Linked DNA regions of Homo sapiens: regions 2, 3, 4, 5 and 6 are each linked to region 1. Evidence: fine-mapped expression QTL. A gene starts in region 1. Each other region holds a variant in brackets. All regions are shown on one strand. Distances are from middle to middle. Region 1 holds the start of MFHAS1 (multifunctional ROCO family signaling regulator 1). Region 2 overlaps MFHAS1 (multifunctional ROCO family signaling regulator 1). Region 3 overlaps ERI1 (exoribonuclease 1). Region 4 overlaps MFHAS1 (multifunctional ROCO family signaling regulator 1). Region 5 overlaps MFHAS1 (multifunctional ROCO family signaling regulator 1). Region 6 overlaps ERI1 (exoribonuclease 1).

Region 1 (5,073 bases):
CTTCTGGTTTCGAGCAACTCTCGTGCCTCAGCCTCCTGAGTAGCTGGGGACTAAAGGTGCGCACCACTATGCCTGGCTAATTTTTGTATTTTTAGTAGAGATGGGGTTTTGACATGTTGGCCAGGCTGGTCTTGAGCTCCTAACCTCAACTGATCCACCACCTCGGCCTCCCAAAGTGCTGAGATTACAGGCATGAGATGCCATGTCCGGCCATTTTTCTTTTTTAAAATAATTTTTTAAATGAAAATATTATTAAATAAATGAACACCATGAATTTGCATGTCATCTTTGTGCAGGGCCATGCTAATCCTCTCTGTATTTTTCCAATTTTAGTATATGTGCTGCTGAAGCAAGCACAATTTTCATTTTTTTCAATTGATTTCAGCTTCTGCAGGAGGAAGTATAATTTTCTGATGGCTTCTAAAGAGGAACAGTTAGCAGTTATTGAGATATAATCATGTAAGGTGGTGTAGGATGGTGATGCCTACTCCAGTCTCCTTACCCAGGCTGAGTTCATATTTTTGTTAGAAGAAGCTGCAGGATGGAGAATTTGGGGTCTGGCTCAAGAACAGTGTGAGTACAGGTGATGATCACAGGGGAATACATTCCACACGGGGAGTTAGCAGTCCTGCCTCTACTCTACTTTGATGGCTGATTGAGAAGTCACTTACTTTGAGCCCATTTCCTCCTCTGTGGGGGAAAAAAAGGGTCAGCCTAGATAACTCAGAATATTTGTTGTAAAATTGACTGTCTCTGGGAGGGAGTGTGGGTGGGGCTACCCTGAGCCATCTGAACTCTCGGAAGTCCTTCAGAGTGAACACAGATCAGCTCTTGCTGTTCACTTACTCACATTTCATCTGTGGTGTCAGAGCCTCAGGGACCCAGCAGAACTGGGGAACATCCTCCAGTTACAGCATGTACTACCTGCAGCCTGATAACCATCACTGGGGTGGATTTCCAGCCTCAGATGTTCAGGTGCTCTTTTTGGAAACACACACTTCTCACGTTACTGCACCAAATATGGGTCCCCAAATGACAGCCATAGCGCATGTCGGGGAGAGCTGCAGTGGGTCAAGTGATGCCTTTAACCAACTGAACGCAGTTTTCGGTCCCTGAAAACTATTTGCTTCCTTATCAATCAACCTGAAGGGAATGATGGAGGTGACACTGGGAGTCTTGGTAGGTTTCCAGACTTTCATAAGTTCGGGAGAAATTATTGACTTAGCATAGATGTGAGCTCAAAGAAACATTTCCTAACAGCAATAAAAATAAGCATTAGAGTTGAACAATGGACTGTGACTGTTTCCCAAAATAGCTGTTTTCTTGAGTCCGCAGAACAACAGGTACTGTATTAATGGGGATACAGTATTTGTTTCACAGCGTTGTTGTGAAGATAAACGGGATACCCCAGATAAACAGCTTGTGTCCCCCCCATCTTAACAACCCTCCTTTAGGCTGGCGGGCCACCTGCTCAAAAGCCTTCCCCAGGGGGGTTAAAACCGTCTTTTAGTAGTTCTGGTACGGGTGGGCTGGGGGAGATCCTCTAAAGCCAGTGCGACCTTGACCCCAGCCAATGTCCAGGCTCTTGACACATCCAGAGAATGAGTTCAAGGACAACTCAGAAAATAGTGACAATATGCAGATTTATTGCAAAGGGAAAAGTACACACCCAGGAAAAGGGATTGTGGAGAGGGTCACTCACAACGGGGCTTGGGGCTGCTACCTTTATGGGTTTCTTTAACCAAGGGGTGAAATATTCATGAAAATTCCTGGAAAAGTGTGGAGATTTTTCGGGACTGTGGTGCCACCCATTTTTACTTCAAATATGGGTGTCCCCGGAATTGTCATGGCACTGGTGTGACTTAGGATGTTAAAGAGCGTATAATGGAGGCCTAGGAGAAACCTAGGTCAAATCCAGGACCACGTCGGGTCCAGCCGGTCTTAGCCAGCTTGGTACACACCCTGGTTTTCAGGGTCTTATCAGCCCATAGCCTCCAGTCAAGTGAAACTGCTGCCTGGTATTTTTTATTCTCCTCTGACCAGCCTGCATTACTCCTGTCCCATGTTCAACACGAAATAGGGCCTCAGGAAATATTTACCAAATGAATGAATGGTTGCCTGTTCTAATTTTGTTTAACCACACTCTTGTCCTAAGCTTCTATGATGATACCCAGGGCCCCCGAGTTGTGCCAGTTCCACTACGGCGTGGATGCAAGGCGAGCGGCAGGGGAGCAGGTAAAGGATGAGTAAGGGAAGCCGGCGGATCCGACGCATTAGAGAACAAGAAAAAGAAATCCTTAGAGACTGGGGGCCAACAAAGAGCCAGGCGCGGGCGAACCCACCAGGGGGGCCCCGGAGCCCCACATCCGCCGCTGGGACGACCTCCCCGCCCAGCATGGTCCGGGGCGCGGACCCGGCCCCGCGCCAGGCGCCCCCGGCCCCGCACCCGGCGCCCTCCGCAGCTCCCGCCCCCGGGGCGGTGCCGGGAAAACGCGGCGCCTCCGCCGGTCACGTGGGGGCCGCTCCGGCGGGCGGCGCTGCCGCTTCCCAATCGCGCCCTCCCAGCGCCGGGGACGCGGCGCCCGCGCTCCCGCCCGAGCCCGGGGAAACGGAGACAAGGAGGCGCCGCCGCCCCCTCCCCGCGGCTGCGCCCCAGCCCTGCGCCCGCAGCATGCCCGCCGCCGGGCCGAGCGCCGCCCTCCCCCAGGAGCTCGAGGAGGCGACGCCGCTGCCGGCCGCGGGACCGCGGCTGCGAGGGTAGCGGGGCCGGAGCCGGGCCCCCCGAGGCGCCGCGCGGCGGGCGGAGAGGGAGGAGGAGCAGGCATCCTCCGCGGCGCGCGGGCGGCGGCCCTGCTGCCCGGCGCGCCCATGGCCCGGCCGCAGGGAGAATGCAAGCTGCTCTCCACGCGCTCGGCGTCCCCCGGAGCCGCTCGCGTCGCCGCCGCCCCCTAGCCGCCAGCGCTCGGCCGCTGGCTGCGCTAGGACCCGCGGCCGCCGGCCGCCGAGCGCGGGAGGGCAGGCAGGGGCAGGAGCCGGAGGGCCCGGGGCGCGGCGCGGCATGTAGCTGCGGGCTCCCGCGTCCGCGTGAGGCTGTCGGCCCGGGGCCCCGCCATGGCTGGGATGGACAGTGGCAACCTGAAGACCGCGAGGCTGTGGCGGGACGCCGCCCTGCGTGCCAGGAAGCTGCGGAGCAACCTGCGCCAGCTCACGCTTACCGCCGCCGGGGCCTGCCCCGGGGCCGGGGCCGACGCGCTCGAGTCCCCCGCCTCCCCCCAGCTCGTGCTGCCGGCCAACCTCGGGGACATTGAGGCACTGAACCTGGGGAACAACGGCCTGGAGGAGGTACCCGAGGGGCTGGGGTCGGCGCTGGGCAGCCTGCGCGTCCTGGTCCTGCGCAGGAACCGCTTCGCCCGGCTGCCCCCGGCGGTGGCCGAGCTCGGCCACCACCTCACCGAGCTGGACGTGAGCCACAACCGGCTGACCGCCCTGGGCGCGGAGGTGGTGAGTGCTCTGAGGGAGCTGCGGAAGCTCAACCTCAGCCACAACCAGCTGCCCGCCCTGCCCGCCCAGCTGGGCGCTCTCGCTCACCTGGAGGAGCTGGATGTCAGCTTTAACCGGCTGGCGCACCTGCCTGACTCCCTCTCCTGCCTCTCCCGCCTGCGCACCCTGGACGTGGATCACAACCAGCTCACTGCCTTCCCCCGGCAGCTGCTGCAGCTGGTGGCCCTGGAGGAGCTGGACGTGTCCAGCAACCGGCTGCGGGGCCTGCCTGAGGATATCAGTGCCCTGCGTGCCCTCAAGATCCTCTGGCTGAGTGGGGCCGAGCTTGGCACGCTGCCCGCCGGCTTCTGCGAGCTGGCCAGTTTGGAGAGCCTCATGCTAGACAACAACGGGCTGCAGGCTCTGCCCGCCCAGTTCAGCTGCCTGCAGCGGCTCAAAATGCTCAACCTCTCCTCCAACCTCTTCGAGGAGTTCCCTGCCGCGCTGCTGCCCCTGGCTGGTCTGGAGGAGCTCTACCTTAGTCGCAACCAGCTCACCTCGGTGCCATCCCTTATCTCGGGCCTGGGCCGGCTTCTCACCTTGTGGCTGGATAATAACCGCATCCGCTACCTGCCGGACTCCATCGTGGAGCTGACCGGCCTGGAGGAGCTCGTGCTGCAGGGGAACCAGATCGCGGTGCTGCCCGACCACTTTGGCCAGCTCTCCCGGGTGGGTTTGTGGAAGATCAAAGACAACCCACTGATCCAGCCCCCCTACGAGGTCTGCATGAAGGGGATCCCCTACATCGCAGCCTACCAGAAGGAACTGGCTCATTCCCAGCCGGCGGTGCAGCCCCGGCTCAAGCTGCTCCTGATGGGGCATAAGGCTGCAGGAAAGACTTTGCTGCGCCACTGCCTCACCGAGGAGAGAGTGGAGGGATGCCCAGGAGGAGGGGACAAGGAGAAGTGCTACCCACCGTCACCTCCCCCTGTGAGCAAGGGCATCGAGGTGACCAGCTGGACGGCCGATGCCTCCCGGGGCCTGCGGTTCATCGTGTATGACTTAGCTGGGGATGAAAGTTATGAGGTGATCCAGCCCTTCTTCCTGTCCCCAGGGGCCCTATACGTGCTGGTGGTCAACTTGGCCACCTATGAGCCTCGCCACTTTCCTACCACCGTGGGCTCCTTCTTGCATCGGGTCGGGGCGAGAGTGCCCCACGCGGTGGTGTGCATCGTGGGCACCCACGCAGACCTGTGCGGAGAGCGTGAGCTGGAGGAGAAATGTCTGGACATTCACCGCCAGATCGCCCTGCAGGAGAAGCACGACGCGGAGGGACTGAGCCGCTTGGCCAAGGTGGTGGACGAGGCACTGGCCCGGGACTTCGAGCTGCGCTCTGCCAGCCCCCACGCAGCCTACTATGGCGTTTCGGACAAGAACCTTCGACGGCGCAAGGCCCATTTTCAATACCTGCTCAACCACCGGCTGCAGATCCTCTCCCCCGTGTTGCCTGTTAGCTGCAGGGACCCGCGCCACTTACGACGCCTTCGGGACAAGTTGCTGTCAGTTGCTGAGCACCGAGAGATCTTCCCCAAC
Region 2 (5,073 bases), 27 kb after region 1:
TTTTCCTCTCCCTTTTTCTCTTCCCCTAGCAAAGATTTCTTTAGAATCTGAGTGAGATATCAGAGGTGCTGTTTGCATATGAAGTAGCGATGACTATGGGTGGAAGCCAGTTGTAAGGTTGCATAGTCATTTATAACTTCTTTCTATGTTAAGGTTACTACCGACTTTATGAGAGGAGCCTCCCAGACTCAGGTGTCATGCCTGACTCATGAGTAATTCATTAGAGAGGGCCCAAGCCATGTATTTCATTGTGGGTTTGTGAGCGGCCTCATCTTCCATAAGATGCTCATTTGTTGGGCTGATCCAAGGCAAAGATCCGAGTAGTTGGGAGTAGCTCCAAATTGGGATGAGCCCAGGCCTACTGTGCATATCTGTTTGGAAGGGCACATCTGTCTACCAAGGGCTGGTTCCAGTGTATTAGCCGAGTGGCACTAGGTAATCAGTTTACAGTCAGTTTAAAAAAGTTGAGGCTATCCTTCTCGGTGATTAATTATGGCTTTTAGTTCATACTAGATTAAAAAAAATCTTTGCATCTTTGCAAGAATAATCATTAACTTAGTTTGTCTATATTATTAGCCGAAAGATACAACACAGTGCTCATGCAGTGTAGAGAAATGAGATAACATCTAGAGTTTACATGTAAGTAGCTATTTGTCAGGATATTTATTCATTGATTCTAGATTCATAAAGCAGGAGTTTCCAGAGGCCTTGCAGCAAGGAATAAGCACCTGGGAGATTCAACTGAATCCCCCTCAGAGCCTGTGCGTTGGGAACTTGGTCTAGAAAATGGATCAGGTTTGTGCGCTATACCACTTATTATAATAAATGATAAAAGTCAGTCTGGACAGAGTGCCACAGAAGTTCAGGCGAGAAAGAGGATTCTTCCAACTGAGTGGGGCCATGGAAAAACTCGAGTTCCATTTATTAGCGGTAGGAAACACATGTTGAGAATGAAGAATGGAGTTAAACAATTGGTCTTTCCCTCAGATCCCAGGGTTTTTAACCTGTTACTAAAAAAGTATAGCAATTTATGGCCAGGCACGGTGGCTCACGCCTGTAATCCCAGCACTTTGGGAGGCCGAGGTGGGCCCATCACGAGGTCAGGAGATCGAGACAATCCTGCCTAACACGGTGAAACCCCGTCTCTAGTAAAAATACAAAAAATTAGCCGGGTGTGGTGGCGGGTGCCTGTAGTCCCAGCTACTTGGGAGGCTGAGGCAGGAGAATGGCATGAACCCGGGAGGCGGAGCTTTTGGTGAGCCGAGATTGCGCCACTGCACTCCAGCCTAGGAGACAGCGAGACTCCACCTCAAAAAAAAAAAAAAGTATAGCAATTTATAATGTTTGAATTATCATTAGCTTATTGGCGTGTAATAATACTTTGCATACTTTTAAAATTCTGGGGTTGGATTAATAATAAAAGAGTAGAAACATTGTTTTTATAAAAAAAATTTTCTGTGCGACACCTATAGGCAAGTACCTATGGGCCTCCTTTTAATTTTGGACTGTTTTAGGAATGTTTTATTTTATTTTTGGTATCTTAGGAACCATAAGAAGCATACTTTCAAAAATGTGAGGGTATATTTTTAACTTTTGTTATAAAAATGTAACAAAAAGTTTATATGGTGAAGAATTTAGTGGGTTTGCATATGCTGATGACCATTGTGACTTTCATAAAACCCCACAGCCTGTGTTTAATTCCATTTCCTACTAGTACAGACTTGAAGAGCTCAGTCCATCTCCTTTATTATCTTGTTTCCTTTAATCTATATTAATGCACCTTAGCAGTATCAGAAATTTTGTTAATATATTATGTGTAGCTGAACTGTAAGCTAAAAATAGATCATACCAACCCATCTCTCTTTCTCTTTCTTTTTTTTCCCACTGTCACCTTCACATTTATTCTTAGTGACTTGCAAATGATGGGATTACACCTTAAAAATTGTCTTGTATCAGATATGTATTTCCCCATTCTCTAAAGAAGGCTAATTATGCAAGTACACGGTTCTTTCCTGATTCATGAATTCATATCACGATTTTATTTTCAGATTCCTCAAGGTAATTGCTTGTTAGACTGGTTCACAGGATGAGAGATATCCAAG[T/G]AGTCATATGAACCGTTTCCGTCCCATTCATGCCATTCTGTCTTCTGCAGAAAATAAGTGAGTCAATCACTGTTTATGAGAATGTGTAAGAGACTGGGGAGAGAGAAGGGACTCAGTGGCCATTTTGTATCACGGATCCTTTTTACTAGGGATAAGAGTGATCCTTACTGGCTGACTGCAGTGGCTCATGCCTGTAATCCCAAAACTTTGAGAGGTTGAGGTGGGAGGATCGCTTGAGCCCAGGAGTTGAAGACCAGCCTGGGCAACATGGCAAAACCCCATTTCTACAAAAAATAAAAAATTAGCTGGGCGTGGTGGTGCATGCCTGTAGTTGCAGCCGTTGGGGAGGCTGAGGTGGGAGGATTGTTTGAGCCAGGGCGGCAGAGGCTACGGTGAGCTGAGATTACGCCACCGTACTCCAGCCTAGAGGACAGTAAGACCCTGTCTCAAAAAAGAAAAAAAAAAAAACAAAAAAGAAGTGATCCTTGCTAAGTTGCCATAGATCCCTGTTCTAGGTTCCCATTCAGCGTCAGAGTTTTATCGTCTGATAAAACAGGGATCAGTTAGAGAGCTTTTCGCAGGCAAAATGACACTGATTTTACTGAACCAATGGTAAAGAGAAGTGCTCCTAGGTTCCCAGGCCCTGTTCTTCTGTATTCTTCCTGCTTAGAAAAAGAGAATAATAAAAGCACTTCAGCTAGGAGTAGAGCTTTCTAAAAATTGGCCAGCCAAATCCCCAGGGAAACCAGGATTTCAGCTTCTCTGTCATCACCTCTGTTTGAGGTTGGCATGCTTTGGCACTTTTTCCGTGGCTGCACTGTCAGGAGAGTAGGCCAAGCCGCCTGAACAAGGAGAGGTGTGGAGGACAGTCATTCTGTAGCTGCAGTAATCCCTGCCCTAGTTTTTCTGCCTTCCTGAGAGAAATAATAGACACCACTTGTTTTACATCAACCAGGCTTCTGACCTTTTTGGACTATGAAAATTAAATTCTTCTAAGACACTAAGTGTTAAATTTGGGACCCAAAAATAGTTGGACTAAGTGGCTGCCTGGTTTAATAGTGGCAACTCAGTTCAGATAATAATTACTAGAAATTTCAAAGAAGTTATAGGAGCCTCACCTTGAGTAGACTAGGATTTGACAGTTGAGTGATATACAATTGTACTTAACAGCCATTTTCTAAAATGAAGTTTTCTGGACAGTAATTCATGTCAAGTGTCATCTGTTGCTTTTCTATGTGATTCCACTTCACCAGGGCTGTCCTGGGAGGGGTCCTTGGTTGTGTTTAGCTTTCATCGAGTTAGGGTAGTAACTCCTAGTCTCCTTCCTCTCCATCCTCTGTACCTTGTGTCTCTTTTCCCATTTCTGATTTTTGTATCCAGGAGTTTCTGATTTTTGCCTTTTGAGTTTTGTTTCTTAAACTAAGTGGAGCTAGGTTTTTATGGGGAAATAATTTCTCAGCCTGTCATCTTGACAGTGAAACATTTCTTTTTTTTTTTTTTTTTTTTTTTTGAGATGGAGTCTCACTCTGTCATCCAGGGTTGAGTGCAGTGGCACAATCTTGGCTTACTGCAACCTCCAGCTCCTGGGTTCGAGCGATTCTCCTGCCTCGGCCTCCTGAGTGACTGGGATTACAGGTGCATGCCACCGTGCCCAGCTAACTTTTTGTATTTTTAGTAGAAATGGGGTTTCACCATGTTGGCCAGGCTGGTCTTGAACTGCTGACCTCAAGTGATCCACCCACCTTGCCCTCCTCAAGTGCTGGGATTACCGGCATGAGCCACCAGACCTGGCCTGAAACATGTTTTTGGTTTGTTTTTTAATCTAGGTGGAAACTAGATACCCTTTCTAGTAACTAATATGTGGTTCATACCTAAAGCCAAAAGAAATCTCAAGTAATTTTTTGGATGAGACAATTTCGGCACCATGTTATATAACTTTATGATATCATCTTATCTGAGTCCTCTCTCTCTCCCTCTCTCCTTCCCTTTCCTTTTTTCCCTAGTGCCTGTAGGTGTGAGTTTAAAGATAAAATGACTGCCAAGTGACCCCAAGTTCAAGGACTTTTATCCTGGCATGCAACTGGAAAATTCAGTTTACATGATACATTTCAAAAGTGTCTGGTGGGTAGCTGGTACAAATGATAGGAAGAGAGTAGCTAATTTTATGCTCATTGTGGTTCTGTAAGATGATGTAAATATATGAGGATTTTAGGAGAAATAAAAAGTGATCTCACTGAAACAGTTATTTGTAGATTGCATTTTGACTTGTCTGAAACACATCAAGGTTAACATAAGAATATTTAGGATATGAATTTGGTCCAAGGAACATTAAAAATATTTTTACTTGGTGATTCTGATAGGAAGACATTGTTTCTACTAATGTGGGAGGGTGGGCAAAGAGGAGGAGGAGTCGGGCAGGGCCATTTTGTTGCTTGGTGTGAATGGCATCCTTGAATCGTGCAGTGGGCGGCCCTCATGGCCAGTAGCAGCAGATTTGGTTGAGCATAGGGGCAGAAAATGGCTTTGTTTTTTTAACTTACCCTTCTGTGTTTATGTTACCAGAACACCAGAGATTTGGTTTAGGTCCTGCTGCTTGCCGCACAGAAAGCCAATCACTGCTGAGACAAGTGTTGCCAGGGAAGAAGGCTTTAATCGGGTACTGCAGCCATGGAGATGGGAGCTCAGTCTCAAATCCATCTCCCTGACCAACTAAAATTGGGGGCTTATATAGTGGGAAGGCAATGTAACTACATGCCGGTAAACAGGAATTAGGAAGGTATAAGGAAGAGGAGTTGGTCAACAGGAAGCTGGTGGTCACTGAGGCAGCCATAATGGGTGAAGGGTCTGGTGTCTCCTTGTCCAAATGCAGTGATCTGGTGAGTTTCAGCTCCTTGATATCTGGGAGCCCTGATGGTTGGTTTTCTGAGAAAGGAATTCAGATAAAACAAATGCAACTTTCTTAAGTTTTAAG
Region 3 (5,073 bases), 130 kb before region 1:
ACATACCAAACATATCAAAGACTAAAAAACTTAAGAGACATATTAACCAACTACAAATCTGTGAACCTTATCCTGATCTGACTCAACACACAAAAGGTAAAAGAAAATATTTATGACTATTTGATGAAGGAATTACTGCTAATTTTTTAAGATGTCACAATGGTATGGTAGCTGTGTTTCTAAGAAAATGACCCTTAGCTTTTGGAGCTACGTAATGAAATTTTTACAGATCAGATAACATAATGTCTGACTTCTGCCTCAAAATAATAAGGAAGAGGAAAGTGGGTGGGGATACACATGAAACATGACTGGCCATGAGTTTCTAATTGTTGAACCTGGGTCATGAGGACTCATACCTATTTCTGTTATGTTTGAAATTTTCCATAACACAATTTTTAAAAAAATTCACAAAATGAGTTCAAAAACACAAAAAAAGATCCACAAAAGGCCAGGTGCAGTGGCTCACGCCTATAATCCCAGCACTTTGGGAGGCCGAGGCGGGCAGATCATTTGAGTCCAGGAGTTCGAGACCAGCCTCACCAACATGGCGAAACCCCGTCTCTACTGAAAATACAAAAATTAGCCAGTTGTGGTTGTGGGCGCCCGTAGTCCCAGCTACTCGGGATGCTGAGACAGGAGAACTGCTTGAACCCAAGAGACAGGGTTGCAGTGAGCCAAGATCGCACTACCGCACTCCAACCTGGGCAACAGAATGAGACTTCATCTCAAAGACAAATAAACCAAAAAACAAAATAAATTCACACAAAAAGATTATCAAATATAATCAAAGGACTAGCACCCAAAGTAAAAATCTATAGACCAGTAAAATACACAGGTAATGAAAAAACAGACTACCCAATTTTTTTTAAAACAGTCAGAAATTTAAATAAGGGGTTCGCAAAAAAGCAATCCAGATAGCTGATACCTCAATGAGATGGTATCACACACCCGTCAGATTTACAAAACATTTAAAATGTATGACAATATCAGATGCTAGCAAAAACTTACAGTAACTATAAACTCACATAGCACTGATAAGAGTGCAAACTGGTACAATTCCATTGGAAAACTATTTTTGTATTATCTAGTAATGTCAATGATGTACATATCCCATGACCCAGCAACTGCACTCTTAGGTTTTTCTTAGAAAAACGAGTGCACAGACACCAGGGGACATGCACAACAATGCTTATAAAAGTACTCTTCATGGAAGCCCCAAATAAAAACAATCCAAATGGCCAGCCAAAGTAGAACAGATAAACAAATCTGGTATAGTCACACAATGGAATTAATAGCAATAAAGTGAATGAACTGCAGTGACATACAAGACGTGGATGGATCTCAAGCATAATATTGAAAAAAAAAAAAAAACAAAAAAAACAAATAATATAGCCAGTATAATACTAATTATATCGTGCTCAAAGCCAGACAAAACTATATAATATAAGGATATACATTTAAATACTAAAGCTATAAGGAATAATAAGAAAATGATTACCATGAAAGGAAGAATTAGGGTTAACTCCAGGAGGAAGGAAGGGAGTTAAGTGGGTGGAAGTTACAAGGGTATTTGCTTTATAGCAATCGGCAAAACTCTACTTTTCTGCATGCATACTTCTCAGTTTTAAAAGACTGTTAAAACAGAAGAGTCTGTAAGGAAAAGCACCTTTTCTCATGAAACTACTTTAGAACATGCTTCTCCAAAATGAAACTGTAAAGGGAGAAAAATGACATAGTATCTAATGCATGAGAATTAAAGGAAATCCCCTAAGATGATTTTAAAAGAAGCCTGAAGAACTAACAGTTCAGATTAGAACAGGATTAAAGGCTCCAGGAAGATAGTCTGCAAGGGAAAAACAGATGAAAAAAGAAAACCTGACAGACTACCTGAGTGTTCTCAGTCATAAGAAGTGACTTACAGTTTGAATGGAGAGTAAGGGGATAAGTAAACAACCGCGGAAGTAAATTATTACATCCAGGGGAAAGTTGTGGACACTCTCCATAGTCACGGGAGTATGAACACTGAGTGCTCTGACTGAAAGGTAATAGAGCTATAGTAGGAAGATGCAGGAAGGGAAGGACAAGCAGGAGTGGTAACTTAATTGAACTCAATCTTGATCTTTCAGGGCAGGAATTCAATAGA[T/C]CGCAAACTGAAAAGTCAAGAAGTAGTATAAGCATGAAACTTAGAAATACAAAGGTAAATATTTGAAAAAAAACAAAAACAAAAACAAAAACAGAGCTTTACATAAGTTGAAAGTGTTTGCCTCAGAACAGGAACCAGTTCTGGTGAAGGCTATGGCAGAAGACTGCCATTCATTGTAAGTCTTGCAATAATATTTTAAACATTTACACGGCACACGCATATTAACTTTGATAAATGTGAAGTAAAATTAAAATCTAGTGGGGAGCATTTGCTCCATGAACAATCCACATACTGACTGCCCCTACAGTTTCAAACTTGTCAGGTATATATAGTTAACCTACTTAAATAAAGTTAACAGGTTGAATGAGAAAAAGGCTTATCTAATTTGAACATAAGGAATTTGGAATCTGAAGAGTAAGAACTAATTATATGGCTTTTTTCCATGAAAAACACCTGGAAAATTACAATCTAACGTACATGCAAATTTTAACAAATTTATCATTAAGAACCACGTAATTATTAAATATAGAAATTTTACCTTGTAAAAATTTCCATATGACTTCCGAATATTGATCCACTTTTTCGCAAAAGGAGGGTATTTGAGCCTGCTGAGTTGACACTGAATGTTCAAGAACTTACTCATATCCCAAGAACTATAAATTAAAAAAGGACAAAAAATTGATGAAATAAACGCTATGCTATTCTTACAAATGAGTATTTTAAATCATTTATTTATATATGTCAACTTTCTCATATTCAAATGTAACATCAAGCTGAGAAAATTAACCTTGCTTCCTACAAAATACTAATTCAAAATTAAGCTTTAAAAACCAAACAAAGAAGTCGGATATATTAACTTTTGTTCACAAACTAATTCCTATTAGGCTCATCTTGATTGTTTTCATGGTTCTGGGCAGGCTTCTATCTTGCTGAGTATTATGCTAAGCTTACTTTTACTGCCAGACTTAGCATGGTAAGTTGACAGCATGCTTTGAAATAAAACCAAAAACAAAAAAATGAAAGAAACAAAAGCAGCTGGTATCAAATGGTTAAAATACAATCTGTTCTGCTACAACATTTTTCTATAACACTAACCAATTTATTGTAGTTAAGGACAATACTGATTGTGTAATATGGAAATTGTGTTGGTTCCTACGTGGTTTTTCTTAGGCAAGGAGAGTCAGAATAATAGCAGTGGAAATTATAAACTTCAGCAGGAAATAAGAAAAGCCCTCAACTCAGCTGCTATACTGGGAACAGGATATAATCCTTTGTATTTTCTTATAATACTGTCAACTATATTATAAGAAAATTAAAAATAAGTGTATGTCCCCAGGACACTAGTGCTTCTGTACAATTTTCATATACTTTGACGCAACCTCACCTTCCCTGAGCTGCTTGCCTGGGCTGCCAAATTATTAATGGAGACTCTAATGATTGGTTTTTGTTAGTGCTCTTGTTACAAAATTGCATAGGTTTTGAGTGATCTGTCCCACAAAATGAGACTTTACCAGAACTGCGTATACTATACTACAGCAGAAACACCTGTATACTTTAGCAGAGCACTGCTCATTCATGTTTAAAATCAGTAATGGATTTCTAAAGAGGTCCATAAACATTTTTCCAAACTTAACAGTTATGATGTGATTAAATTCAATGCTTTTCTCCTATCACATGTGAGGATCTCCAAACCCTCTATGTTGGTGACATCTCAGGTATAGAGGATAACCTGCACAGTTTGAAACAGAAGTTGTTTAGGACGTTCTTTTCAACCTTAATGGCCTTAAGGTATCGGAGTTGCCCTGGCACAACGTCTGTCATCTATGTTTTAATCTTTCTGATCTTCCCATTTAGCTTTTCATTTAACAAATGCTTTTTGGGCATACACTTTAAGCTCAGCACTAAGGTAAGCATTATGGAAGATTATTAGGCAGCAAAAGTCCTTCTCTGAAAGAATTTTAGATTTCCTTGCAAAAGTAAGTCTTATGTATGTACACAAAGATTATATATCAGAATATATGGTCAGATGTCAACATGAATGGTATATACCATAGAAATTATAAGGTTTCAAGGAAAAAAAAGATCAATGGCGTTGTCAGGGTAAAACACAAGATGGGCTTTGAAAAATGATAAAGTTGTCGAGAAGACACTCTCAGTACAGAGGGAGGCATAAGTAACTACACAGAGAAAGGGTAAACCATGTGAATTCCTGGGCCAGTCTGACTAAAGAGGATTAATGGCAGGTGAATTAGATTAAACAGGTAGCGTGGGATGAGAGGAAAGAGGCTTCAAGGCCAAGCTCAAGAGTCTGAACTTTTTTGAGTAAGGAAGTGTCATGAAAAAACAGAGTTTTAGCAAAGTCTTTTTAGCTTTACATATTTTTAACTTTCTGTAGTGTTCTAGTCCTGTATTGGACTGTGACCACTGTTTTCTTCCTCTCTTTCATCCTTAGGTGAAAGGAAAAATACTATTCCCTGTGGGGTGAGACTCTAGGGTCTCTAATAATAGTTTGTGGTTATTCTAAAAATCAGATAAATAAGGGTATCTTTAATCTTTAAAAAGTAGATATAAAAAAATAATCTTCCTAAATACTTACCCATCTGTTAAAAGTGAGTATTTATACTTTGTTCCTAATTCCTTCAATTTCATCCAGTCAATTACTTTTTTTAGTACCTGAGGGAAGGTATCAGCTCTGTCTACCTGATCCTGAGGATATAAAAGTAAAATATACAAAAATCAGGGCTGCAGCTTCACGTAGACCTACAAAATACCCAGACCTAAGTTGGAGGGGAAGAAACAGTATGAGAAAGGCTGATACTTTAAATTCATGGTTTCCTTGGCTTAGCTCCACCTAAAGTTTCATTTTTAAGAAATTCTAAAAATTTCATAACCAAGTACTGGGACTACTTTCAACTGAAAAGTATAATCCT
Region 4 (5,073 bases), 72 kb after region 1:
GCTGGAGTGGGTAAGGACTCCGGGGTACCCTGTGTGCTTGGAGGGAGGCAGTCCTGTATTTCTTAAGATGCTTAAGAAGATGCAAGATGTGAGATGCTTAGATGATGGAAGGTGAGGAGAGATTGGCCTCCAGGCATCCTGCTCCCCGCAGAGCCCCTGAGAAGGTGGCCTTATTTATGGAGTTTGCCTGTCTGTTTACTGGCTTCTTCTCAAGGGAGCATAGAGGACCCCACTGGTCAGGTGTCAGACAAAAGAGCTGTACGGATGCATAGATTTAGTTCTGCCTCACAGGCAGGTAGCCTGAGCTCCTAGGGGGAACTGTTTTTGCTAAGTAGGGAATGAAAAGCATGTTTATTTAAGCACAAAATTAAATCTCTCCTATTTTTATATGATTTCCCGTTGTTTTCTTCCCTGTAGGGAAATCTGCTGTGATAGAGAACTGCGTAACAGGCCTTTTCTGTGAGCGCTCACTCATACATTATGCACGACGTGGCTAAGATCTTTGAAGCGCATGGAGACAGGCACATCTCTGAGAGGCGAGATTCTTTCTTTTCTCAGCCCCCACTATCTTCTGTGCTACATCAGAGATGGAGCACAGCCACCGTGGGTCTTGAAATTTCGCAGGTGATGCTCTTCTCGGTGACCTGTGGGTTCATTACCTGTGTCAAAGACTGAAGACGGGAGAATTAGGGAAGTGGTGGCCTGGGAGAACCAAGGACATGTTTGTGTGCCCTATTTAGGCGATTGTTCTACTTCATGCTAAATTTGTGAGGAGTTTTATGAAGCCTAGAAAATTAAGTAGAAAATATATTTTTACAGTATTTTAAGCTGGAACAGACTATTTAAAGCTCGAAGAGACCCTAGAGATAAACCAGTTCAGTCTCTTCCTTTTGCAGTAGAAGGGACGAGGCCCAGAGGACTCACGGTGTTTCGGGAACTTGCAGGGAGTTAGCGCAGCACCAGGATCGGAGCGCGGGGCCCCGTGTCCAGCTCCTTACTCTTTTTGTTCTGGCAGCGATGCCCACCGGGCCTTCACAGTACATTTCTCTGGATACAGAGAGAAACATTATTCATCTGAAAGCAAGGCTTCAGAAGCTGTTTTTATAATAATTTGTTAGAGCCACATAGTAACTTGCAAATAAACATTTACAGTTAATGAGAAAAATGGATACCCCTGAGAAAAACCGTTTGTAGTTACTGTGTTCTAGTCAGAGCTCTTGAGCTAATTTGAAAGGAAAGTCAGGATTCTGGCAGGAGGAGAGCTATCCCCAGATTCCAAGGATGGGGAAGAGAATCTCTGTATGGACTAGAATTCGAGACTGTCCTGTGTCCCTCTGTCTCTCCTTCCCGGTCTTCTGTCTGTGTCCTCTGTGCGGGATCCCATGCCTGGCTCTGTTACCCTCCCTTCCCGCCACCAGCCTGTCGGTACCTCCTGTCCTGATTTTCTGGTTTTCAGTCATTCCAACCCCTTCTCAGTTTCCCTGACTTGGTCCCTGTGCCCGTCTCAGTCCCCCTGACTTGGTTCCTGTCCCTGTGTCAGTCCCCCTGACTTGGTCCCTGTCCCCTTCTAAATCCCCCTGGCTTGGTTCCCTGTCACCATCTCAGTCCCCCTGACTTGGTTCCCTGTCCTCATCTCAGTCTCCCTGACTTGGTCCCTGCCCCCATCTCAGTCCCCCTGACTTGGTCCCTGTCCCCGTCTCAGTCCCCCTGACTTGGGTCCCTGTCTCCATCTCAGTCCCCCTGACTTGGGTCCCTGTCTCCATCTCATTCCCCCTGATTTGGTCCCTGTCCTCACCTCAGGCCCCCTGACTTGGGTCACTGTCTCCATCTCAATCCCCCTGACGTGATCCCTGTCCCCATCTCAGTCCCCCTGACTTGGGTCCCTGTCTCCATCTCAATCCCCCCTGACTTGGTCCCTGTCCCCATCTCAGTGCCCCTGGCGTGGTCCCCTGTCTCCCGCTCCATCCCCTGCCCCCATCTCTGTCCCTCTGCATCAGGCATGGTCACGTCTCAGTGCCATCTCACCCTCTCCCTGAGGACTCGCTCCATTTTCCTCTCCCCTCAGACCAGCTTGCTCTGCAGCTGCGCACGATGCAAATGACCGCCCCAGCCTCTCTTGGCTTCAGTCCCCCACCACAGACTAATTCTATCTCTCACCCCAATTTCAAATCCCCAGGGAGCTGTCTGATCTGCCTGCTTCAGCTCCTCTCAGCCTGCCTGGTGCTGCCGCACAGAGGAATTGGCTGCCCGTGGCCGGGTGGAGAGTCCTCGTCTTGTGTGTGGCCAGGGTCTCAAGGCCTCATGCTACACACTTGCGTATAGCATCTCGTGCAGGCTTCACCACAGTCTTACGAGGCATGCGGTGACCTTGCCCTTAGACGTGTGCACTCAGGCCTAGAGCTGTCAGAGCCATTTGTCGAGCGACCCGCTGCTAGGAGATGGCAGAGCTGGAGCCAGACCCCAAAGCCAGCGCTGCGCTGTTCTCCTTTTGACGCGGGCTTATCCACAGTTAATCAGTGATTTCCTCAGATGTCCACATGCTCCTACGGTGA[C/G]TAAACCCAGCTGTCTTTTGCACATAGTTGGAAAAGTTACTATTAGGCACCTAGACTAGGTTTGATAGCAATAGGATTTTATTAAAACCTTGATGGAAAACCTGCGTAGTATCTGCTAACATCTTTGCATGCTTGGAGGCAGAGGAGGATTTAATATACATCAAGTCTGTGTAGCAACATCAAAGGAAGATTTAAACACTGCTGGCTTTTTTGTGCGATATTTAAAAAGCACCCCCCACCTTTTAAGAAAATGTGAAGTTCTGGCATAAATCAAAGTGTGATTAATCAGTGATGATTGACTGGTATTTTCATAACCTGTGGCATTAATAACAACTTTGTATGGACATAAGAGTTGTAAGCAAATTTGGGAGGGAGGTTACTGCTTCATGCTATTCTCCATGCCGATCTTCGATCTTTGTACATACTTACTTGCATTCTGTAAAATTCGGCGTGATGAAATCCAAGAACCAAAAATGCAGGGTGGAAATAGGCTTAGTAGTAAGTGACCTTCTATTTCCACTTCCCACCTCCTTGTTAAGATTCTTTGACCTCCTGCCACAGGGGCCTTAGAGGCATCCTGTAAGCTTTGCACAGAAGCTGCTAATCCCCCGGCAGGCAGTTCAGGCAGGCAGTTCATTCCGTTTCCACCTGGCAGCTGCTCCCTCTGACACCCAAGGACTCGCAGGGAGTGGCCGTTGGACCTGCAGACCCCTGGGAACAGGCAGGGGGAAGATATGTGGAACTGAGACCCAGAGGCCTCCCCACTTCCCTGTGCTGACTCACGTAGGCTGTCATCTCTGTTGGCTTTTAAAGGAAGAGGGGTAGGAAGGACAGTGAAATTAGAAGCATTGCCAGGTCTTGCTTGAGAGCTTCTCTCTCTCACTGCTGCTATTTTTTCTTCATTAAATGTGTGATGTGGGTTTGTTCAAAGCATCCAGTGGCTCTCCACTTAGATCATTTAATTCCACGATGCAAATGGCAGCACAGCTTTGGCCTGGAATCATGCTTCGCACTTGGTCAAGGCCACCTTTAACTGCCTGGCCAGACGGCTAGAGATTTTCCCGGGGCACCCCTGGAGTTTTTCCCATCCTGACTAGAGATAATCTCAGAGCGGGAGCCAGCCCCAAGTGAGAGGGCCTCTGAAAGACCACAGGATGGGAACATGGACGTGTAGCCTCATTTCCTCAAGGGGATGCAAGGAGATTGATTAGGCAATGGGGGATTCCATGAAAAAAAAATTCATGATATTAGTCTACTTACGTAAAATTGTTTGGGTGAGCACGGGTGGAGGGGCAGGGTGGGGAAGAGAAAGACATTGAGATCAAGTGAATAAAGGAATTGGGACCAAATACCATTCTCACGCTAACCTGACTGTCAGATGAAAGAAGAGAATGTTGCAGTTATGCTTATGGCTTGATTCTGCTTGGAAGAAAAGAAATCAACACAAAAAATTCCTGATGTGTGCATGCGCTTTTGGAAAAAGGTGTAGGGAAGGGCACACAGCAGTCTAATCCTGGGGACTTGAGAAGGGGGAGCACAGCAGTCCCAACCCTGGGGACTTGGGAAGGGGGAGCATAGCAGTCTAACTCTGGGGACTTGGGAAGGGGGAGTAAGGGAAAGGATTATATTCTTTTCTTTGCACATCTTTATATTTATTTCCTTATTCAAACCAGCACTGTTAATTTTTGTAATTAAATAAATTTAGAGAAAGACTTTTTAAATGTGAGAGAGCTGTTCTGGGGGAAAAATCAGAACAAAAACTAAATTTACACTGGGATTGTTTATTTTAAGTTTTGTGTTTCATAGATAGTCTGTATAGACTGGGTGTGGTGGCTCATGCCTGCAGTCCCAACACTTTGGGAGGCCGAGGCGGGAGGATAGTTTGAACTCAGGAGTTTGAGACCAGCCTGGGTAATGTAAAGACCCCGTCTCTATCAAAAATAGAAAAAGTCAGCTGGGCATGGTGGTGCGCACCTGTGGTCTCAGAAACTCGGGAGGCTGAGGCAGAAGGATTGCTTGAGCCTGGGAGGCTGAGGCTGCAATGAGCTGTGATCATACCACCACACTCCAGCCTGGGTGACTCAAAAGGTACAAAAGGCTCTTTGGGGAAAAGGAAGTTGTCTGTTCTGTCCACAGCCATGTATTTCCCTTTCTGGAGGCAGCCACTTTGGCCAGATTCTTGGATATTCTTTTTTTTTTTTTTTTTTGTTTTGAGTTGGAGTCTTGCTCTGTCGCCTAGGCTGGAGTGCAGTGGCGTGATCTTGGCTCACTGCAAGCTCCGCCTCCCGATTCACGCCATTCTCCTGCCTCAGCCTCCCGAGTAGCTGGGACTGCAGGCACCCGCCACCATGCCCGGCTAATTTTTTGTGTTTTTAGTAGAGATGGGGTTTCACCCTGTTAGCCAGGATGGTCTCGATCTCCTGACCTCGTGATCCGCCCACCTCGGCCTCCCAAAGTGCTGGGATTACAGGCGTGAGCCACCGCACCCGGCCAATTCTTGGATATTCTTAAAGAAATGCTC
Region 5 (5,073 bases), 89 kb after region 1:
AAGGTTAGAGGGACCTTCATTCTGAGGCTTACTTCAGGGGCCGCTCAGCTTTCAAAAGCGCCCAGCGTGCTCAGGTGCCATATTTTGAGGAATGATTTTCTATACCCCCAACATCATAAAACCACCTCATTGAAGCTTCAAGTGGTGCCTCATGGTTCCTTTCTGTGTTTTCTTTTTTTTTTTGAGACAGAGTCTGGCTGTGTCCCCAGGGCTGTAGTGCAGTGGCACAATCTCGGCTCTCTGCAACCTCTGCCTCCCGGGTTCAAGCGATTCTCCTGCCTCAGCCTCCCAAGTTGCTGGGATTACAGATGTGTACCACCTCGCCTGGCTAATTTTTGTATGTTTAGTAGAGATGGGGTTTCAACATGTTGGCTAGGCTGGCCTCGAACTCCTGACCTCAAGTGATCTGCCAGCCTTGGCCTCCCAAAGTGCTGGGATTACAGGCCTGGGTCACCGGACCCGGCCCCTTTCTAGGATTTTTAGAAATTCCAGAGAAATCTCATACAAAATCTAGAGAAAGCATCTATTGTTCTTGTGTTATTGCAATTTGTATAGTGTCAGGGTTAATCTGGGACTGATGAAGATGCTGAGAACAGTAAGTTTAAAGAACTTTGATATAGAACAATATTTTACTTTGCTATTGTTCTGTCTTTTAGAACCAAAAATAAAGCCCTTCTTAGTAGGTGACTCAGCTTCCTGCAACCTCGCTGGGGAAATTTCTCCAAATATTAATGCATGCCACGTAAGCCAGGTTCACTTGCTGGCCCTGGATGTTTATTCTGGCCCCCAGTTATATTTATTTTGTGTCTGGTAGAGCCTCACACTTCAAAGTGGAATGCTCCTGAAGTTTCTACCTGGCCTCTCATCCCAGTGTTGTAATGGACACTTGGGGAAGGAAACTCCCCAGGGACTCTGGAGATGCCAAGACTCTGACGCTTTTGCAGCAGGTGGGCGTCCCGTGAGGAAGAGTGGCTTGGAGGAGGGGAGATGGGCTCTCCTGTTGCAGGTATTAGAAACAGAGAAAGCAGGAGGAAGAGGAATTGCAAATAACCAGGCATGAGGAAGACGTAGGGAACAATGCTACAGAGGATTGGATTTGTATGAATTATTTTTAAAACAAAACAAAACAAACAAACCCCCAAACGGCCAGGCACAGTGGCTCACGCCTGTAATCCCAGCACTTTGGGAGGCCAAGGTGGGCGGGTCACCTGAGGTCACAGGAGTTAGAGACCAGTCTGGCCAACATGGCAAAACCCCATCTCTACTAAAAATACAAAAATTAGCCAGTCATGGTGGTGCGCGCCTGTAATCCCAGCTATTTGGGAGTCTGAGGCAGGAGAATCTCTTGAACCCGGAAGGTGGAGGTTGTAGTGAGCCAAGATCATGCCACTGCACTCCAGCCTGGGCAACAGAGTGAGACTCTGTCTCAAAAAAGAAAGCAAAACAAAACAAAAAACCCTCCAAACAAAAGGTTGTCATGAAAGGGAAATGCAGTTGACCCTTGAACACACACGAGTTTGAACTGTGCCGGTCCACTTACAGAAGGATTTTCTTCCACTTCTGCCACCCCTGAGACAACCAGACCAACCCCTCCTCTTCCCCCTCCTCCCCAGCCTCCTCAATGAACAGACAATGATGAGGAAGACCTTTATGATGGTCTACTTCCACTTAATGAATAGTAAATATATTCTCTCTCAAGATTGTCTCAATAGCATTTTCTTTTTTCTAGCTTATTTTATTGTAAGAATACAGCACATGCTATATGTGACACACAAAATATCTGTTAATCAGCTGATTACATTATTGGTAAGGCTTCCAGTCAACAGTAGGCTTTTTGTAGTTAAGTTCTGGGGGTGGTCAGAAATGATACGTGGATTTTTGACTGCTTGGGGTGTTGATTGTTCAAGGGTCAACTATATAAGCTTGTAATGTGAGGGAAGAGACTAAATTCTGGTAGAGATTTGAAAAATAGTAGCAGTTTTTTCCCCTTGGCTTTCTGTGGTTGAACGTTTACCAAATGCATTGGAAGGGCCGTTGTGATCTGAGGCCTCAGCTTTTTGATCTAGAAGAGACCTGACTGATGATCCCTCAAGGGGCCCTTGGACCAACTGCAGCTCTTCTTGGTTTAGCAAACCTGAGATCATTTAGTCATCCCCTTCTCCCTCCTATCTTTCAAACCAAAAAATAATTTTAACAAAGCTTTATGTAATTAGCAAGCAAACATTACTGTCAGGACGATCGTCTTCTGCCAGGAGTTGGGCTAAACAAGGAAAAGCTGAGGTCATGGGCTCCAGGTGGAGCACCTGCCATGAAAGGAAAACTGAAAGGCGCCCGTCATCCGTGCCCAGTGTGTGGGCCTGGCACGGCTTCCCTGGCGTTATTCATTGGGAGAATCTGAGAACCATTGTGTGAGTCGCAGAAGTAATCAAGAGTGTGGCCTTTTTTCTTCCTTCTGCCTATAACTATCACCACTTTGGAGGATGCTTGGAAGAAGTGGAAGAAGCCAAGTGCTGACACTGAGTTTGTTTAGTGTTGCCTAGTGACCAGGC[C/T]ATGAATACTCACTGAAGATAGGTGCTGAGGGCTTTCTGATTTAAGGGCATCTCTGAGAGGCCCCAACTGGCCTGGTTTATTTACCCTACCGATTGTACTCTGTGACTGCTAAGACTTCACAAATGGTTTCCAAAGCTTCAAGACGCTGAAGGGTGTTTATGAATGTTGTTTTTTTGTTTGTTTGTTTTTTGTTTATTTTATTTTATTGAAGTTTCAGCATTCAATATCAAAACCGGACTTGAGAATTCCACAAATGCCTGAAAATGGAAATTTCCTTACATTGTTAAATTGCCCAGAACTCAGTGGATTCCTACATTTTGAAGAGTTGCAGAGATGTGTGCTGAAAATGAAAACGGTTCTAGGAGAGGGTCATAATTTTTGATGGTGTAAGTTTTTGTAGCTGTCGTTGGAACCATACCTTAGGATATATTCAATTATCAAGTGAGCCTATGAGTTTGAGTCGTTTTGAAAAGGAATGATATCTGTGGGGCACTGGTTCCAGGACCCCCATGGGTACCAAAGTCTTTGGATGCTCAAGTCCCTGATATCCAGTGGCATGGTATTTGCACATAACCTACGAACATCCTCCCGGATGCTTTATTTTATTTTAGTTTAGTTTTCTGAGACAGAGTCTCACTCTGTCGCCCAGGCTGGAGTGCAATGGCACAGTCTCGGCTTACTGAAACCTCTGCCTCCTGGATTCCAGTGATTCTCCTGCCTCAGCTTCTGGAGTAGCTGAGATTACAGGCATGTGCCACGATGCCCCGCTAATTTTTGTTTTTTTAGTAGAGCCGAGGTTCCACCAGGTTGGCCAGGCTGGTCTCTAATTCCTGACCTCAGGTGATTTGCCTGCCTCGGCCTCCCAAAGTGCTGGGATTACAGGTGTGAGCCACTGCTCCCAGCCTCCTCCCTTACTTTAAATCATCTCTAGGTTACCTATAATAACTAATACAATACAAATGTTATGTAAATAGTTGTTATACTATTTTGTTTAGGGAATAATGACAAGAAAAAGGTCTATACATGTTCAGTACAGATGGAATTTAGTTTTCTTTTTCTTTCTTTTTTTTTTTTTTTGAGACAGGGTCTTGCTCTGTCGCCCAGGCTGGAGTGCAGTGGTGCGATTTCGGCTCACTGCAACCTCTGCCTCTCGGGTTCAAGCGATTCTTCTGCCTCAGCCTCCCAGGTAGCTGGGATTACAGGTGCCTACCACCATCCCTGGCTAATTTTCATCTTTTTAGTAGAGAATGGGGGTTTCACCATGTTGGCCAGGCTGGTCTTGAACTCCTGACCTCAAATGATCTGCCCCCACCCCTCGGCCTCCCAAAGTGCTGGTATTACAGGCATGAGCCACCACGTCCAGCCCAGGTGCAGTTTAAAAACAATTTTTTCGACCTGCAGTTGGTTGAATCCGTGGATGCAAAACTCACTGATAAGGAGGGCTAACTCTGTAATTGAGCCAAGAGCAAACCTTGTTCACAGGAAGAATGCAACATCCCTACAGTTTTGGGGAACCACTCTTTGAATCCCCAAAACCCCTTAAGAGTATATGTGGCTTAGTGGTAGAATATACCTGTGGGTACCCCAGCTGACTTGTTAGTGGCTATGCAGGAAGATTGTTGCCAAATCTACCGATAGCCTGCATACCTTGGGTAAGTCTCTTGCAAGTTCAGCAGCAACTCAGCCCCTTTAAGGATGTTCCACCTGCCTTCCCCATGAATTCAGCATCCCGTGTGGGTGGCCTTCCAGGGACCACAGCTGTTGCCTCATCATGTTTCCCAGAAAGTTCTGTAGCCTGCTTTCCGCACAGCCTGCTCCTTCACCCCCCAAGATAGCTTCCCAGGGAATTTGTTGGCACCCAGAGGACAGTCCCCTGCCTGCTAGCTTTGGCCAGCTGATCATGGACAGTCTGGCCTAGGGCAGTCCAGCCAGCTTCTCCACCATGCAAGGAGCTGCTCCATACCCTACCCTTCATTCCTTGTAACTGGGTAGCTTATAAGGAACAGAAATCTGTTTCTCACAGTGTGGGAGGTTGGTAAGTCCAAGATCAAGGCACCAGCAGATTTGGTATCTGGTGAGGGGTTTCTCATTCACATATGGTGTCTTCTCGCCATGTCCTCACATGCGCTTGTATGAACTCTTTGTGTATTTAGAAGAGTAAGCCTTTAGAGAATCTTCTCGTGACTACAGTAATAGGGTCAAGTACTTACTAGGTGCCAGATACAGTGTTCAGTATGTTTCGTGTATGTGTTACCTAATTTAAACATCATGCTATCCTTGACACAGGATATCTGGTAGTGATGAGTTTAGTCAGTCCTACTGTCAGAGTTCAGCACAGCCACTTCTTCCTGTGACCATTGGCAAACTACCTCTTGCATCTGAGCCTCAATTTCCTCTTCTGTATATAATGAGGATAATAATTGTCCCTCCCTTCTGGTGTTGTTGTGAAGACTGAGATGGTACATAAACAACATTAAGCCAGTAAAAAGTGCTCGCTCAATGTCAGTTGCTGCTGTGGTCATC
Region 6 (5,073 bases), 140 kb before region 1:
TGCCAAAGGTCCGGGCTGTCTGGGAAGAAGGCTGAAATCACAGCAGGTCTTTAACAAAACAGAATCAAGAGAATAAGACTGATGGGCTAACTTCCTGGGGACAGAAGTAGGATGGTGCACATGCGACTCAACGCGAGTGTGATGGTGAGGGGAGTAACTATTACCCTAGAGCAGATGGTTACTGTAAAAGTTGGCAGACAGAAATCAGACTGTGAAGGTTCTTATATGCCAACAGAGAGCTGAGTTTTATCCCATCAGAAATGTGAAGGTTTCTGAGATCAGTGTGCAAAGCAACATTTTAGGAAGGTTTTTTATGACAGTGGTATACAGGAAGAGACAGCAAGAGAGAAGTCTGTTAAATTTTAGCAATAGTCTGTGTAGCAATGATGATAACAGAGGCTGGGGTGAGGATAAAGTGACTGGACAATAAAGGACATTGTGCTAAAAGGGGGAGGGAGGGACTATGAGTTTCATGGTTTCAATCCTATGTGACTGTGATAATCATGGTCCCACTGACAAAAATAAATCCAAAGGGAAAACAGGTCTATGTTCAAAGGTGCAGAGTCGGCAAGCAAGAATGGACACTTCAAGGGGAAGGCTCAATCGCTGCCCTCCATCAATCTGCCATCACCAGTGATGGTGTGCCACACTACATTAGCAAACAGAAAATCACAACCTTGCTCCTCTTTTGTTCTTTTACTCAATAGAAAAAAAAAATGACTTGTATTCTAAACTTGCTCTTGATCATACTATATACAGGCATACCTCAGAGATACTGCAGGTTCAGTTCCAGACCACTGCAATAAAGGGAGTATCACAATGAAGCAACTCACACAAATGTTTTGGCTCCCCAGTGCATATAAAAGTTAAATTTAAACAATAGTCTATGAAGTGTGCAAAAGCATTATGTCTAAAAAATACATATATACCTTAAAGATTAAATTTCTAGAAAAAGGTAACAATCATGAGTGTTCAGCAAGCCATAATCTTTTTGCTGGTGTAGGATCTTGCCTCAAACGTTGAGGGCTACTGAGTGATCAGGGTGGTAGGTGATGAAGATTGGAGTGGCTGTGGCAGTTTCTCAAAATGAGACAACAATGAAGTTTGCTCCATCAACTGATATTTGTGCTTTCACAAAAGATTTCTCTTTATCATGCTGTTTGATAGCATTCTATCCACAGACCTTCTTTCAAAATTAGAGGCAATCCTCTCAAACCACGCCACTGGTTTATCAATTAAGCTTATGTAATATTCTAAATCCTTTGCTGTCATTTCAAGAATGTTTACAGCATCTTCACCAGGAATAGATTCCATCTCAAGAAATCACTTTCTTTGCTTATCTGTAAGAAGTAATTCCTCAAGTTTTATCATGAGGCTGCAGCAATTCAGTCACATCTTCACTTCTAGTTCTCTTGGTATTTCCACCACATCAGCAGTGACTTCTTCCACTGAAGTCTTGGGCCCCTAAAAGTCATCCATGAGGACTGAAATCAACTTCTTGCAAATTCCTGTTAAGGTTGATATCTTTACCTCCTCTCACGAATCACAAATGCTTGTAATGGCATTCAGAATAGAATGGTGAATCCTTTCCAGAAGGTTTTCAACTGACTTTGCCTAGATCCATCAGACGAATCACTACCTATGCTAACTACAGCCTTATGAAATGTATTTATTAAATAGTAAGACTTGAAAGCCAGAACTACTACTTGATCCATGGGCTGTGGAATGGATATTGTGTTTGTAGGCATTAAAACCAACATTAATCTCCTTATACAACTCCATCAGAACTCCTGGATGACCAGATGCATTGTCAATGAGCAGTCATATTTTGAACAGATTTTTTTTTTTCCTGAGCACTAAGTCTCAACAGCAGGCTTCAAATATTCAGTAAATGATGTAGTAAACAGATGTGCTGTCATTCAGGCTTTGCCGTTCCCTTTATAGAGCACAGGCAGAGTAGATTTAGCATAAGGGCCCTAGGATTTTCAGAATGGTTAATGAACACTGACTTCAACTTAAACCAGCTACATTAGCCCTTAACAACAATCAGCCTGTCCTTTGAAGCTTTGAAGCCAAGCACTGACTTCTCTCCAGCTATCAAAGTCCTAGATGTTATCTTCTTCGAATAGGCTATTTCATCTACATTGAAAACCTGTTGTATGGTGTGGCCACCTTCATTAGTTATCTTAGCTAGATCTTAGCTAGATAACTTAGCTAGATCTTAGCTAGATAACTTGCTATAATTTCTACATCAGCACTTGCTGCTTTACCTTGCACTGTTTTATGGAGACAGCTTCTTTCTTTAAATTTCATGGACCAAT[C/A]TCTGCTGGCTTCAAATTTTTCTTCTGCAGCTTCCTTACCTCCCTCAACCCTCACAGAATATGAGACAGTTACAGTCTTGCTCTAGATTAGGCTTTGGCTTAAGGAAATGTTGCAGTTTGATTTTTTATCCACACCACTAAAACTTTCTCCATATCAGTAATAAGGCTGTTTTGCTTTCTTATCACTTGTGTGCTCACTGGAGCAGCACTTTTAATTTCCTTCAACAACTTTTCCTTTGGGTTTACAACTTTGCTAATTTGGATCAAAAGGCATAGCTTTCAGCCCGTCTTAGCTTTTGACATGCCTTCCTCTTTAAGATTAATCATTTCTAGTTTTTGATTTAAAGTGGAAGACATGTGACTCTTCCTTTCACCTGAACACTTAGAGGCCACTGTAGGCTTATTAATTGCCCTAATTTCAATATTGTGTCTCAGGGAATAGGTAGGTCTGGAGAGGGAGCGATGGGGAAAACACAGACATTTATCAATTAAGTTCGTTGTCTTATATGGGTGTGGTCTGTGGTGCCCCAAAACCACCATGATAGTAACATCAAAAGTCACTGATTACAAATCACCCTAAGAGAGATAATAATAATCAAAAAGTTTGAAATATAGGGAGAATTACCAAAATATGAGACATGAAGTGAAAGTATGCTGTTGGGAAAATGACATAAATAGACTTTCTCCACACAGGATTCACACAAACTTTCAGTATGTTAAAAAACAAAACAAAACAAAATAGTATCTGCGAAGCACATAAAGAGAAGTGCAATAAAATGAAGCATGCCTTGTGGCTCCACAATGATTGAGCAGTATTCATCCTAAAACAAATCTAATGAAATTTACCTTGAGAACATTCACTTGCAAGTAGAAAAGCAGATCTGGTTTAAAGCCTCGGGCATCCGCCCCTTACCCAAGTCTTGGTAAGGAATCCAGAAAAACAAGTACTTCCAACTCTTCATCAGTCAAACTTAAGCCCTTTAGCCTCTGTGTCATTATAAACTCAAGACACTAACATTTCTAATCTCAAGAACATGGAGGAAATTTTAAAGCAAAAATCGTTCTCCTTCTCCACTTATCCCCATCTCCGAAAAAACCTTACAGCTGGTCACATTAGAAGTTAACAGTATTTTATATTGTTTCATTCAAAGAATGAACATCAAATTACCTCCTGATTTGCAACATTTAGTACAATCGCATTGAAAATGTCTAGTTTAAACCATACAGGAAGATGTTTATTCTACCTAGGACAACCTACCTGTTCCTGGAATATCAGGTTAAGCCAAAGTCTACAACGGGAGGCAGCATAGCACAGAGATAAAGAGCAAGGCTCAAGCCATACTGCCAGAATCTACAGCTCCCACTACTTAAACTTTGGCAACTTAACCGCTCTGGACCTCAACTTTCCCATCTGTAAACTGCAGAGAATGCCTCTCTCCATCACCAGATTCTTACTAAACAATGGAGTAAAGTACTTAACAGTGCTCCATAAATGTCTGATGCAAGTATCATTGTACCTTAACATTCAGCTCTACGCTCTCATCACAGTCGCATTTCTTGTTTGTTGATGGAACTTATATATTGCATTACATAAGGGAGGTAAGGGTAGGCAAACTTTCTCCATAAAGGGCCAGACAGTAGTATTTTTTGGCCTTGCTGGCCAGATGGTGCCACTGATGCAGCTATTCAACTCTGCCATTGTAGCACAAAAGTGGTCAGAGATGACATGAAAACAAATGAGAATGGTAGTTCTTTCCAAAACTTTATTTAGAGAAACTAAAATTTCGTAATTTTCGTATTATACAAAATATTATTTTGAGCCATTAACAAAAGGGAATATAAAAACCATAGTTTGTAGGCCATACAAAAATAGGCAGCAGCCAGATTTGGCCCATGGGTGGTAGTTTGCTGACCCCTGCTCTAGATTAACAAATTTACGGGCTTTGGAAGCTTTGTGGGGCAAGGAGGCTTGATATACAGGTTGGTGGTGCAGAACAAAGAGGAAATTTCTAAGTATAATAGAAAAAAGATGTAATGCTGTCCTTCATGTATCAACGCTGGATTCAACTATGTGCAAAACATTTTATCATATGTCGCTGGAATCAAAGATGCAGAAGTCACAGTCTCTGGTCTCGAGGAGCATATACTTCTCCATGGTAGCTTAGAAATGGAAAGTCTTCCTTCAAAGTACAATACATCCTTCTCAGACTTTGACAATGCACCCGTGCGTGCTCATCTGTGAGGCAGGTAGTTTCTTTGGCAACTACAGCTGAGGCCAAACATGCATTATTATCTTGACCACCTGTGCTTCTTCCCCTCCCCAGTAATCATACCAGTTTTTCTCCTGGTCTCCAAATTATTCTGTTTTGCATTATCATTTTGGGGATAATACTTGGGATGATATACTAAAAGTCAACTGGTCACATCTTTTTAAAAATTACCATTTTAATTAGTCTTCAGAGATACCCTCTCTCTCTTAATAGGTAACATGCTTGTGACGCCTGTGTTTTTTTGTTTCAATCCAGGCAGAAACTTCTCCCTAGGAGGCAGGATAAATGGATCTATCTCAAGGCAACAAAGACACATCACAAAAACATTTTTTTCAGAGCAAATGTTAAATACTTGATCCAACAGAACACAAATAAAGATAAAATGTAATGCTCTATTATATACTTCAGTTGGTTATAAAGATTGCGGATTTGAAAAAAATCAGCAGAAATCCACTATGTCAATGTCAGAGCATATGAAGCAT

The links. PIP is the estimated chance that this variant, and not a neighbour inherited with it, causes the effect. A credible set is the group of variants that fine-mapping cannot tell apart.
Region 2: its variant is the best candidate, but not a certain one, in a credible set for the expression of MFHAS1 in whole blood (INTERVAL, PIP 0.56).
Region 3: its variant is the best candidate, but not a certain one, in a credible set for the expression of MFHAS1 in whole blood (INTERVAL, PIP 0.79).
Region 4: its variant is the best candidate, but not a certain one, in a credible set for the expression of MFHAS1 in monocytes (TOPMed, PIP 0.73).
Region 5: its variant is the best candidate, but not a certain one, in a credible set for the expression of MFHAS1 in skeletal muscle (GTEx, PIP 0.90).
Region 6: its variant is the best candidate, but not a certain one, in a credible set for the expression of MFHAS1 in whole blood (TOPMed, PIP 0.80).

The regions. Positions count from the first base shown.
Region 1 is chr8:8,891,097-8,896,169 of GRCh38, reverse strand. It overlaps MFHAS1 (multifunctional ROCO family signaling regulator 1), which reads left to right and starts at 2,540. Exons shown (of 3, transcript NM_004225.3): 1 at 2,540-5,073. The coding sequence starts at 3,112. It also overlaps the pseudogene RNU6-682P. RefSeq lists silencers at 2,395-2,644, 2,655-2,934, 3,045-3,314 and enhancers at 3,159-4,119, 4,120-5,073.
Region 2 is chr8:8,863,816-8,868,888 of GRCh38, reverse strand. All of the region lies in intron 1 of MFHAS1 (multifunctional ROCO family signaling regulator 1), which reads left to right. Among named protein-coding and RNA genes, the nearest start is that of MFHAS1, 27 kb to the left of the region's middle. RefSeq lists a silencer at 116-410. The variant T/G (reference allele first, on the strand shown) is at 2,103.
Region 3 is chr8:9,018,073-9,023,145 of GRCh38, reverse strand. It overlaps ERI1 (exoribonuclease 1), which reads right to left. Exons shown (of 7, transcript NM_153332.4): 5 at 4,740-4,849; 6 at 2,682-2,796. Among named protein-coding and RNA genes, the nearest start is that of ERI1, 18 kb to the right of the region's middle. The variant T/C (reference allele first, on the strand shown) is at 2,144.
Region 4 is chr8:8,819,295-8,824,367 of GRCh38, reverse strand. The region is part of intron 1 of MFHAS1 (multifunctional ROCO family signaling regulator 1); the gene reads left to right. Among named protein-coding and RNA genes, the nearest start is that of MFHAS1, 72 kb to the left of the region's middle. RefSeq lists an enhancer at 2,117-2,659. The variant C/G (reference allele first, on the strand shown) is at 2,553.
Region 5 is chr8:8,802,071-8,807,143 of GRCh38, reverse strand. All of the region lies in intron 1 of MFHAS1 (multifunctional ROCO family signaling regulator 1), which reads left to right. Among named protein-coding and RNA genes, the nearest start is that of MFHAS1, 89 kb to the left of the region's middle. The variant C/T (reference allele first, on the strand shown) is at 2,550.
Region 6 is chr8:9,032,336-9,037,408 of GRCh38, reverse strand. ERI1 (exoribonuclease 1) reads right to left here. Exons shown (of 7, transcript NM_153332.4): 7 at 4,071-5,073. Among named protein-coding and RNA genes, the nearest start is that of MIR4660, 14 kb to the left of the region's middle. The variant C/A (reference allele first, on the strand shown) is at 2,322.